2 separate regions of the Homo sapiens genome follow, and region 1 is linked to region 2. The links come from fine-mapping of genetic effects on gene expression. A gene starts in region 2. The other region holds a variant in brackets. All regions are shown on one strand. Distances are from middle to middle. Region 1 overlaps MAILR (macrophage interferon regulatory lncRNA). Region 2 holds the start of AZIN1 (antizyme inhibitor 1).

Region 1 (5,376 bases), 22 kb before region 2:
CCCAAAGTGTTGGGATTACAGACGTGAGCCAGCAGGCCTGGCTGAGGAGCTTCTCCTTGTATGAACACTGAGCTGGGCTAAGCCCTTTGCATGTGTTTCCAGTCCTATCAACAATCTTATGACATAGAAATTATTGTACATATTTAACAGTTGAATAAACTCAGGCTCAGAAAGCTTAAGAAGCATGCTCAAAGTTACCCAGAAAGATAGTGGTTAAGCCAGATTGGAACCCATGTCCGAAAGGGCATTCACTCTTCTAAGTATCCCCAGCGCCTAATATAGTGCTCGGAAGGCTGGGTGGAGTGGCTCATGTCTGTAATCCCAGGACTTCGGGAGACTGAGGCAGGCGGATCACCTGTGGTCAGGAGTTCAAGACCAGCCTGACCAACATGGTGAAACCCCATCTCTACTAAAAATACAAAATTAGCCAGGCGTGGTGGCAGGCGCCTGTAATCCCAGCTACTTGAGAAGCTGGGGCTGCAGAATTGCTTGAACCCAGGAGACAGAGGTTGCAGTGAGCCGAGATCGAGCCATTGCACTCCAGCCTGGGCAACAAAAGCAAAACTCTGTCTCAAAAAAAAAAAAAAAAAAAAAATATATATATATATATATATATATATATATATATATATATATATATATATAGTGCTGGGTAAATAGTACAGGCTCAATAAACATTCCCTAAAGGAACGACTGACTGAAGAGCAAAGGCTTGTCAAATAATTCAGGATGGCTGTGAAGATAAACAAAATAATAATGCTATGATTATCTTTTATTGAGCACTTACTTTGTGCCAGGCACTATGTTAAAGGCTTTACATGGGCTATGTGCGGTGGCTCACATCTGTAATTCTAGCACTTTGGGAGGCCGAGGCAGGCAGATTGCCTGAGCTCAGGAGTTCAAGACCAGCCTGGCCAACACATTGAAACCCTGTCTCTACTAAAATACAAAAAAATTAGCTGGGCGTGGTGGCAGGCGCCTGTAGTCCCAGCTACTCGGGAGGCTGAGGCAGGAGAATTGCTTGAACCTGGGAGGTAGAGGTTGCAGCGAGCTGAGATCACGCCACTGCATTCCAGCCCGGGCGACAGAGTGAGACTATGTCTCAAAAACAACAACAACAAGGCTTTACATGTATTATATACACAACATACATAAAAGATTTAACACACAGGATGGCATATAGTAAAGACTTCAGTGTTACTAATATTATTGCATATCACTACAATGGTAGCTATCATCATTATAGTAAAATAGTTTTAATATTATGATCTTTTCCAGCCATACCCTTAGTGCTTCTCTCAGTCTTACTGCACAGGTCAGACTGAGGGTAAGCCCTTGCAGCAGAGAATCAGCTCCAAACCTGGTTCCTCCTTCCATTTCTTTTTCACATAGGCACAATTGCAACATGATGTGTTAGTTAACCTCTAAATTACACAAGGAGCCCCAGTGTGCTTCTCTGTGTTGGGGAGGAAGGGGGTTGCGCTCTTGTGCTCCCACCTGGTTTGCATAACGTACTTTTCTCTTTCAGAGTTAATTGAGAAAGAAGCCATGTGGTCTGTGGCAGCAGCTGGAGGAAGGCATGGTGACTCAACAGGGCTCTGCATGGAAGAGTACAAGGTGGTTCTGGGAAGCAGCAAAGATTGGCCACCCCAAGGCTCTGAGGGAGCCGCATGCAGGCTCTAAGCAGAATCAGGCCAACCCCTGGCCTGGAGGAAGTAGGGGAAGAGAGCTGCCAGTGGCAAGACCTGCTCAGGCTGTGTGAGTGGCTGTGGAGACACTGGGAAGAAGTTCTGGGGAACTGGACCGTGGGGTACTATCCTAGCACTCAAAGTTCCTTGTGACCTGAGCTAGCATATTTTACAGTGGGGAAGTAACAGGTACTGCCCATGAGGATAAGTAACATCTTGAGCTCCAAACCTTGCAATTAAACTTTCAGATAGTAACTGGAATTCTTCATGAAGCCCATGACACAGGCAAGTATTATGCATATTTTTAGAAATAAAGTACTTTATTAGAACTACAGATCTCCACTCTAGTGGTCCTATCATAGAATTCATTATCTATCTATCTATCTATCTATCTATCTATCTATCTATCTATCTTGAGATGGAGTCTCACTTTGTTGCCCAGGCTGGAGTGCAATGGCATGATCTCAGCTCACTGCAACCTCTGCCTTCTGGGTTCAAGCGATTCTCCTGCCTCAGCCTCCCAAGTAGCTGGGGTTACAGGCATGTGCCACCATGCCTGGCTAATTTTTGTATTTTTAGTAGAGATGGGGTTTCGCCATGTTGGCCAGGCTGGTCTTGAACTCCTGACCTCAGGTGATCCACCCACCTCGGCCTCCCAAAGTGCTGGATTACAGTCATGAGCTATCACACCCAGCCACATTATCAATATATTTTGAAACAGGACTCATACAAATATAATATGAAGTCACTGTTACCTCTTATGACTTCAAAGTCTTTTACCAAAAATTCTCAAGGGGATCTTAATCAATCTGCAAAGACTTACCATTAAAAAAAAATTTATATTCTCTGAGGTAGAGTTGATGACCACCTGAGTAGATAGAAGTCAGAGACTGGTGTTTGAGTCCCATTTCACTAGGACTTAATTGTGAGATCTTGGGAAAGTTCCTTTGTTTGTAAAACATGGGGAAAAATTCTTAGCCTGTATCATAAGAACTTTTTAAAAATTCACATGAGATAATGTATGGAAATTGATAAAGCACCATATGAAATTATTGCATTTTACCTACTAAAGAAACTGAGACACAGAGTGATATGGTTTGGCTCTGTGTCCCCACACAAATCTCATGTTGAATTGCAATCCAAATTGTAATCCCCACATGTCAAGGTAGGGTCCT[A/G]GTGGGAGGTGACTGGATCATGAGGGCAGTTCCCCCTGCTGTTCTCGTGATAGTGAGTTCTCATGAGATGGGCTTGTTTGATAAGTATCTGGCACTTACCCCTTTCTCTTCTTCTTGCCTGCTGCCATGTAAGATGCGCCCTGCTTCCCCTTTTCCTTCCAAGATGATTGTAAGTTTCCTGAGGCCTCTCCAGCCATGCAGAACTGTGAGTCAATTAAACGTCTTTTGTTTATAAATTACCAGTTTATAAAGATACCAGTCTCAACAGTATCTTTACAGCAATGTGAAAATGGACAAATACACAGAGTGAACAAAAGATTTGCCCAAAGTCATAATTAGCAAATGGAGAGTCAAAGATGAAATAGAAATTCAAGTGACTGGACATGGTACACGGCAGAGTTGATTCAGATAAACAATTTGCTTTGTTGAAGTCAGCATGCATGTGACTCTAAAAAGCATTAGTCCAGTGAGGTAAAAAGGAGCATTTACTGAGTGTATAGAGAGACCTCACAGTATCGACGGATGGAACACAAAGAGTTGCTGGGTTTCACCCAAATTGGCCAGAAAACTGGGGAATTCTCAGGGACAGGGTGGCTTGTCCCTCTGTGTCCCCCTTGTCTTTGCTTCTCAGCCAGCTCCAGCCTCTCCCACATTCTGTCTGTCTTCCTCGGCTCCTTCATCCTGTGTGAGGCACAACATGGCTGCTCTTTCTGGATCTAGACAAGGAAGACCACTGAGCTCCAGTACTCACAATCAACTGGCAATACACACTAAACTTCTTCTTCATGAACTAGCCTGGCTCCTCTGAGAGAACCTGGACCACACAAGTCATTTCTGAGCAAATAATTTACTCCACCTGGGTCAGGCATGTTCGACGCTGGTCTAAGCAGTGATGGGCTTCCCCACCACCACCTATCCCCAGAAGTCACATTACCTCATGTTATCTTGTACAGCTGTACCTTCCAGAGAGCTGTGGGTGGCAAGGGTGCTATACTGCCAGGCTGGGTGTTATCACATAAAGAGAGGAACTATGTATAGAGAGAGCATGCTTTGGATGATTTCATGATATATTTCAGTTATGAGATTTAAGATCCAAATTTCCTGGTCAAAAAAATCAACTCAGTTTAACTAATATTGTGTTGGGCTCTTAAGATACATGTCCACAAGTTGTGTCCACAAATAACTGTAATATAAGATAGTCTATGAAAGTTTCTTAGAAATTGTCTTATAAAATTACATGAAAGCATAAAAAAAGAATTAAGCCCTCCTGGGGGAGTCAGAAAGCTTTTACTAAGTGCAATTTGAGACTTGTCTTGAAGCTTTCATTTAATTTTTATAGAGAGGTGGAAGATGGGGAAGACACACACAAAGCAGTGGGGAAAGCATGAACAAAATATGGAGAAGTGAAATTACATGTACACTCTGAAAGTGTGAAGAGTATAGTGTGCTGAAGAGCAGCATGCAGGAGGGTGAAAAGGAAACACGTTAATTGACTCATCACAACTATACACTGGAAATTTTCAGGTGACACCTCATTTAATCTTTTTTTTTTTTTTTGAGATGGAGTTTCACTCTTATTGCCCAAGCTGGAGTACAGTGGCGCAATCTCGGCTCACTGCAACCTCCGCCTCCCAGGTTCAAGTGATTCTCCTGCCTCAGTCTCCTGAGTAGCTGGGACTACAGGTGCCCACCACCACACTCGGCTAATTTTTTGTATTTTTAGTAGAGATGGGGTTTTACCATGTTGGCCAGACTGGTCTCGAACTCCTGACCTCAGGTGATCTCCCTCCTTGGCCTCCCAAAGTGCTGGGATTACAGGCATGAGCCACCGTGCCTGGCTGCTTCTTCGTCTTTTTTTTTTTTTTTTTTGAGACCAAGTCTCACTCTGTCACCCAGGCTGGAATGCAGTGGTGCCATCTTGGCTCACTGCAACCTCCAACCACCACCTCCTGGGTTCAAGCGATTCTCCTGTCGCAGCCTCCCGAGTAGCTGGGATTACAAGCTCGTGCCACCACACCCGGGTAATTTATGTATTTTTAGTTGACATCGGGTTTCACCATGTTGGCCAAGCTGGTCTCAAACTCCTGAGCTCAAGTGATCTGCCCACCTCTGCCTCCCAAAGAGCTGGGATTACAGGCGTGAACTACTATGCCCGGCCTCATTTAATCCTTTCAACAATCCTTGAGGTAGTGTCTATTGCCCCTATTTGACCAAGGTACATGAAAGCTGAAGCCACTTTTCTACTGTACCATGTGGGGGCTGAGCATGAGAACAGATGGAGGGAAGGTCTGCCCACCATCTAAGGAGTTCATACCAGATTCTAAAGGCATTGTGAGGTCACACAATATTTCTAAACAAGGAACAGCACAAACAGATCTGAATTTTAGAAAAATAATGCTGGTAGTAATGTAGGGATTAAACAGAATATTCTTTCTCTGTCATTCATTCATTTAATTTTAAAAAATATTGAAAACTTACTGTGGGTCAAGATTGTGTTACAAGGCACTGTGGGA
Region 2 (5,338 bases):
CCTCTTTTCAATCCCACCCACTGGTGCTGGAGTAATCTTTTAAAAAACATATTTTTGAGCATATCATGTTCCTGTTTATATGGTTCCAGAATAAAGTCCAAGTTCCAATTTTTTGTTTTGTTTTTTTTTTTTTTTTTGAGACGCAGTTTCACTCTTGTTGCCCAGACTGGAGAGTGCAATGGTGTGATCTCGGCTCACTGCAACTTCCGCCTCCCAGGTTCTAGAGATTCTCCTGCCTCAGCTTCCTGAGTAGCTGGATTACAGCCATGTGCCACCATGCCCAGCTAATTTTGTAGTTTTAGTAGAGCCGGGTTTTCTCCATGTTGGTCAGGCTGGTCTCGAATTCCCGACCTCAGGTAATCCGCCCTCCTCGGCCTCCCAAAGTGCTGGGAATACAGGTGTAAGCCACTGCGCCCAGCCTCCAATGTCTTCTTGATGTCACCCTAATCTACCGTTTCAATCTCATTTGCAACCATGCCCCTATGCTGGAACCAGAAAGGCTATTCACAATTCTCTAAACCCACCCACTTCTGTGCCTTCTCTCATCCGTTTCCCTTGCCTGGAACACTGGAACATCTACTCTCAAAATCACCAAACAGGCGAGTTTGGTGAAAAAGGAAGCACCTTTGTCTAGAAAGGCTTTTCTCAAAATCACTCTTTACCTTTCCCCAGCAGCCTTTCTCTCACTTAGCTGCAATCATCTCTTCCCTCCACTTGGTCCTTGCAGCATTTTATTTGTATCAGCCAACAATTTATTTTGTATTGCTGTCTTATTTCCCCTGCTAGATTGTAAGCAAGGTTTCAAATATTGTATTCATCTCTAGTTTTTCTTCCTCCACCAGAGAGGGTCTAGTGAATGGCTGTGTTTTCAAATGTTCTGAATAGAACAGAACTTTGAAGAAATAAAAGACAGAGCCAAGATATAGCCGAGCAAAATAAGGAAAAACAAAATCAGGAATGCGTCCACAGCTCCTGATTCTACCGAATACTCTCTCATACAGCCTCGCAAGATACCCTGCTTTTCCACACAGGAAGGTCGCTTTCTTCCTTTCACATTTGATGATTTATTAATCAACCACAGTGCTGCTCAAAGTACACAGAGGGTTCGGAAGAATGAAAGGGAAAAAAGTCAGGGTCTTAATATCAAAGATCTTAACTTCAGAGGGGTGTGTCAACACATATTCCATTTGTGCTATGTGTTGCGAAGCGTAGCAGCACGAGAGAACTCGGGGTCTCTGATCATGATCATTAGTGCTGAGGCATCTAAAAAAGATGAAAATAAATTAAAAGCTATGTAGGTAATCTTAGAACCCCTAGTAAAAAAAAGTCTGTTGTGGAGTAGAAAAATTAAAACGACCGCGAAAATGAGACCTAGGGGATTGAAGTAATGTGCGCTTGTAACATCAGTAATCCCCTCTCCAACGCGGGTCCTGCTTGGGACTGACTCCACCAATCCTTTTAAAAATGAAGACATAAAAGCCATATTCCTTTAAAAAATTTCCACTGCACCGTATTGCAACGTTCGAGCACTGAGGACATTTTCACGTGGTCACAACCCTTTTTAACACCCGGACACTGGGCCGGTCCTTTCTGGCCACGAGGAACTCGCTTCCCTAAAGGAGTACCGCATCACCGAGGGCGGGCGCCTCAGCCCGGGAGGACACTCCCCAGGGTAAACTACAGGCCTCACAAAGCGGAGGGAGCTGGACGCGAAGGCTCGGCAGCGGCGCCGACAGGCTTACCCCAGGCCCACTCTAGGCCGCACAGGGTTCGCGCCACCTCCGGCCCAGGACAGCTCTCAGACGCTGCCAGCGTGGAGCTCGACCCGGCTCACAATGCGCTGGGCCCCGCAGCGTGAGCGCAGGCGCCCGAGAGGCGGCGGGGGTCGGGCGGACGGCGCGCTCCAGCCGAGCCGCCTCCCTCTCTCGGCCCACACCCGCGCGGCCGCCCTTCGCCTGCCGGGGAGCTGCGGGTGGCTGGAGGGCGGGAAGCGACCGGCCAGTCTGCACCTGCATGACCCGGTCGCGCGCCGACCCCTCCCCTCTCTCTCCCGGGCTCAGTCCTCCTTCCTCTTCCGTCCCCCTCCCTTTTCTCCGGGCTGCAACCGGGTTCCGCCCCGCTCGCGCGGCTGCCCGGCCAGCTGTGATGTCACCAGGCCACGCCCCCTAATATAAATACTGGCGTCGCTGGCGCCGCCTTCTCACACTTTCAGGCTCTGATCGCGGCCGCAGTTTTTCCTTTTTTCTTCTGCCGTCGCCTTCTCTGCCTCTTCTCATCCTTTCTCGCTCTGCTGCTCTGCAGTGTGACGAGTCCGAATCCTCTTCCCACCCAGCCCGCGCCTTTCTTCTTTTGCCTGCGCTGTTCTATTTCTCCTTCGGCCGCCGCCGCCACTGCTGCACACAGCTGGTGTCGGTGCCGCGCTTTTACCCCCAAGTCGTTCCCGCAGCCTATGGCCCAGGCCGCCTTGGGTATTTCTGCTCAAGGTAACCACATCCCTCTTTAAAAATTCCGCCGAAAAAGAGAAGACGCTTTACCCGACTCTTTGGGCCGTTATCTCACGTGAGTACCGAGCCGAGGAGCGCGGGAGGGGCCAGGACGCGGGGCTGGCCTTGGGGGGCGGCTGGGGGGCTCCGGCTGGGCCCCGCCGCCCTTAAGACGTCCCCGCAGCGCCCCGCGGCCGGCCGCCTCGAACATGGCGGCGGCGGCTGTCTGTGCCCCCGGCGGCGGCGGCGGCGGCGGGGCTGGGCGGCGGGCCGCGCCTCAGGACCTTCGGGCGGCTGCTGGACGCTTGGCGGAGCCGGAGCCGCAGCAGTTGGGGCGAGGGGGCGTGTGCCAGTGGGGGAGCGCGCGGGGGTCTCGCCGCCGGGGGTCGCCGTCCCCTCCTGGCGGCGTGCGGCCCCCACCCCTCTCCCGTGGTGCATTGCTGTTTCCGGGGAGGGGGCCCGGCCGCAGCCCTGAGGGGCCGGGGTCCCGCAGCCCCTACTCCGCGGTGCGCCGCCGCCACCTTTGCCTCCCGAAGCCCGGCGGGCGGGCGGCGCTGTGGGCTGCAACGGCTGGGGTCCTGGTTATGAATGGAGCGGGGCGGGCCCCGCGCCGGCCTCTGGTGACAGCTGCGGAGGAAGTCGGATTCCTGGGGGGCGCGGGGAGCGCGGTCCCCCTCTGGTGGAGGAAAGTTGACGCCACTTGGGGCCTGGCGGCGGGGAAGCCCCGGTGTCAGGTAGCCAGCGAGAGGCTTTTGGCCCCTTCTGGAAGCCTCGAGGCTGCTGCTCCGCCCCTGCGGCGCTCCTGATTGGGTCAAGTCGCCTTCACTCACCCCAGTCACCTCCTGGAGCCTGAGGATTAGTCACCATGGCTTCGTTTTTCCGTCCGCGCCATGGTTCCTAGGCAGAAAGAGGGAGATTGGTAGACGGGTGGCTTATCAACTACTGTCTTGACTGCCAACAGTTGGTGGTGGTAACATGTTCTAACCCTTACACGGTATCCTGAATGTGTGTTTCGTAGACAAAGCTGCTGGTTCAGAAACCCGAAACAGTCGGGGACACAGTTTACCGCCTCATGTTTCAGCACATTTAACTGAATTTTGTGGTGGCATCTTGGTTATATTAGTTCTGTGTCCCGTCGTGTTTCTATCGTGAATTCCCAGACTGGGTGGGAATCTAAGGACTCAAAGGAGGGGGAATTGCCTTGTGCTCAGCGAAGGTTGATGTAGAGGTGCATCAAAGCACAAAGTAGAAGTACATCAAAGCACATCAAATACAGCAAGGGTTGGCAGAAACATGGCTCATGATTGTCTAGAAAGGCCCTCATAATTCATTAATTTCTTTTACATATACGAGAGCGTGCAGATGCTGATCATGATTAGAAATAAGCCCCAAGGAGTTTAGGAAAGACTCCAAAAGAAAATGATTATCGGTGGTGATAAGTGAGGTCGAGTAGTCAGTGCCTTTCTCCCCCAAGGTTTTATCACATACGTTTTCAAACAGAAGGTGAAAAAGAGTTATACTTCCACCTAGATTCTGTAATTAACATTTTACCTTATTTGTCGATGCATTTCAAAGTAAAGTTGGAGACCCCTCCAACTTTAGTATGTGCATATTAAATAGAGCTCAGTACCGCTTACTATTTTTTAAATCTTAGAGGGTAAAATTCACATCAGTATAAACCCACAAGTCTTAAGTATGCAATTTGATGAACGTTGACAAAAATACAGCTGTGTAACCTAAACCTTTTGTCAAGATGTAGAACATCGCCATCACCCTCAAAAGTTTTTTCTTGTCCTTTCAAATCGTCTTCCAGTCACCACAGAGCCAACCACGATCTTGGTTTTTTTTTTTTGGAGTCTAGCTCTGTCGCCCAGGCTGGAGTGCAGTGGCACAATCTCGGCTTACTGCAACCTCCGCTTCCCAGGTTCAAGCGATTCTCCTTCCTCAGCCTCCCGAGCAGCTGGGATTACAGGCGCCCACCACGCCCAGCTAATTTTTGTATTTTTAGTAGAAAAGGGGTTTCACTGTTGGTCAGGCTGGTCTGGAACTCCTGACCTCATGATCCGCCCATCTCGGCCTCCCAGAGTGCTGGGATTACAAGCGTGAGCCACTGCGCCCGGCTGATCTTGATTTTTTTTTTTAAACCCATAGATTATTTTCGTCTATTCCAGACTTTCCACATGAATGGAATCATACAGTATGCATTCTTTGGTATAAAAGGCTTCTTTTAACTCAGCACATTTTTAATATTCATCCCTGTTGTCTTTATCTGTAGATTATCAGTAGATTATTTGTGTTGCTGAGTAGTAGCCCATTAGGTGACTGTCCCTTGGTTGTTTTTTTTAAAAATAAACTTTATTAGGCCGGGCGCGGTGGCTCAAGCCTGTAATCCCAGCACTTTGGGAGGCTGAGGCGGGTGGATTGCCTGAGGTCAGGAGACCAGCCTGGCTAACATGCTGAAACTCCATCTCTACTAAAAATACAAAAATTAGCCGGGCGTGGTGGCTGGCTCCTGTAATCCCAGCTCCTCGGGAGGCTGAGTCAGGAGAATCGCTTGAACTGGGGAGGCAGAGGTTGCAGTGAGCCGAGATCTCACCAGGGCACTCCAGCCTGGGGGACAAGAGCAGCGGGACTTCATCTCAAAAAATAATAATAATAATGAAAAATAAACTTTATTTTGGAGTATCTTAGTTGCGCAGCAAAGTCACAAAGATACAGTTTCTTCATACTTCCCACCCAGTTATTAGTAACATCTTACGTTATTACAGTACATTTGTTAAAACTAAGAAACTGACTTTGGCACTATGAAACGTTCGAGACTTTTATTTGGATTTCGCCAATTTTTCTTTAATGTC

The links. PIP is the estimated chance that this variant, and not a neighbour inherited with it, causes the effect. A credible set is the group of variants that fine-mapping cannot tell apart.
Region 1: its variant is the best candidate, but not a certain one, in a credible set for the expression of AZIN1 in whole blood (INTERVAL, PIP 0.78).

Annotation. Positions count from the first base shown.
Region 1 is chr8:102,883,300-102,888,675 of GRCh38, reverse strand. The region is part of intron 2 of MAILR (macrophage interferon regulatory lncRNA); the gene reads right to left. LOC124902000 (a long non-coding RNA gene) reads left to right here. Exons shown (of 2, transcript XR_007061041.1): 2 at 1,529-5,376. Among named protein-coding and RNA genes, the nearest start is that of MAILR, 22 kb to the right of the region's middle. RefSeq lists a silencer at 2,814-2,863 and enhancers at 3,474-3,663, 4,314-4,513. The variant A/G (reference allele first, on the strand shown) is at 2,864.
Region 2 is chr8:102,861,028-102,866,365 of GRCh38, reverse strand. It overlaps AZIN1 (antizyme inhibitor 1), which reads left to right and starts at 2,203. Exons shown (of 12, transcript NM_148174.4): 1 at 2,203-2,559. MAILR (macrophage interferon regulatory lncRNA) reads right to left here and starts at 2,095. Exons shown (of 3, transcript NR_126339.1): 1 at 1,743-2,095. RefSeq lists enhancers at 1,125-1,857, 3,326-4,059 and silencers at 1,737-2,086, 2,747-2,976.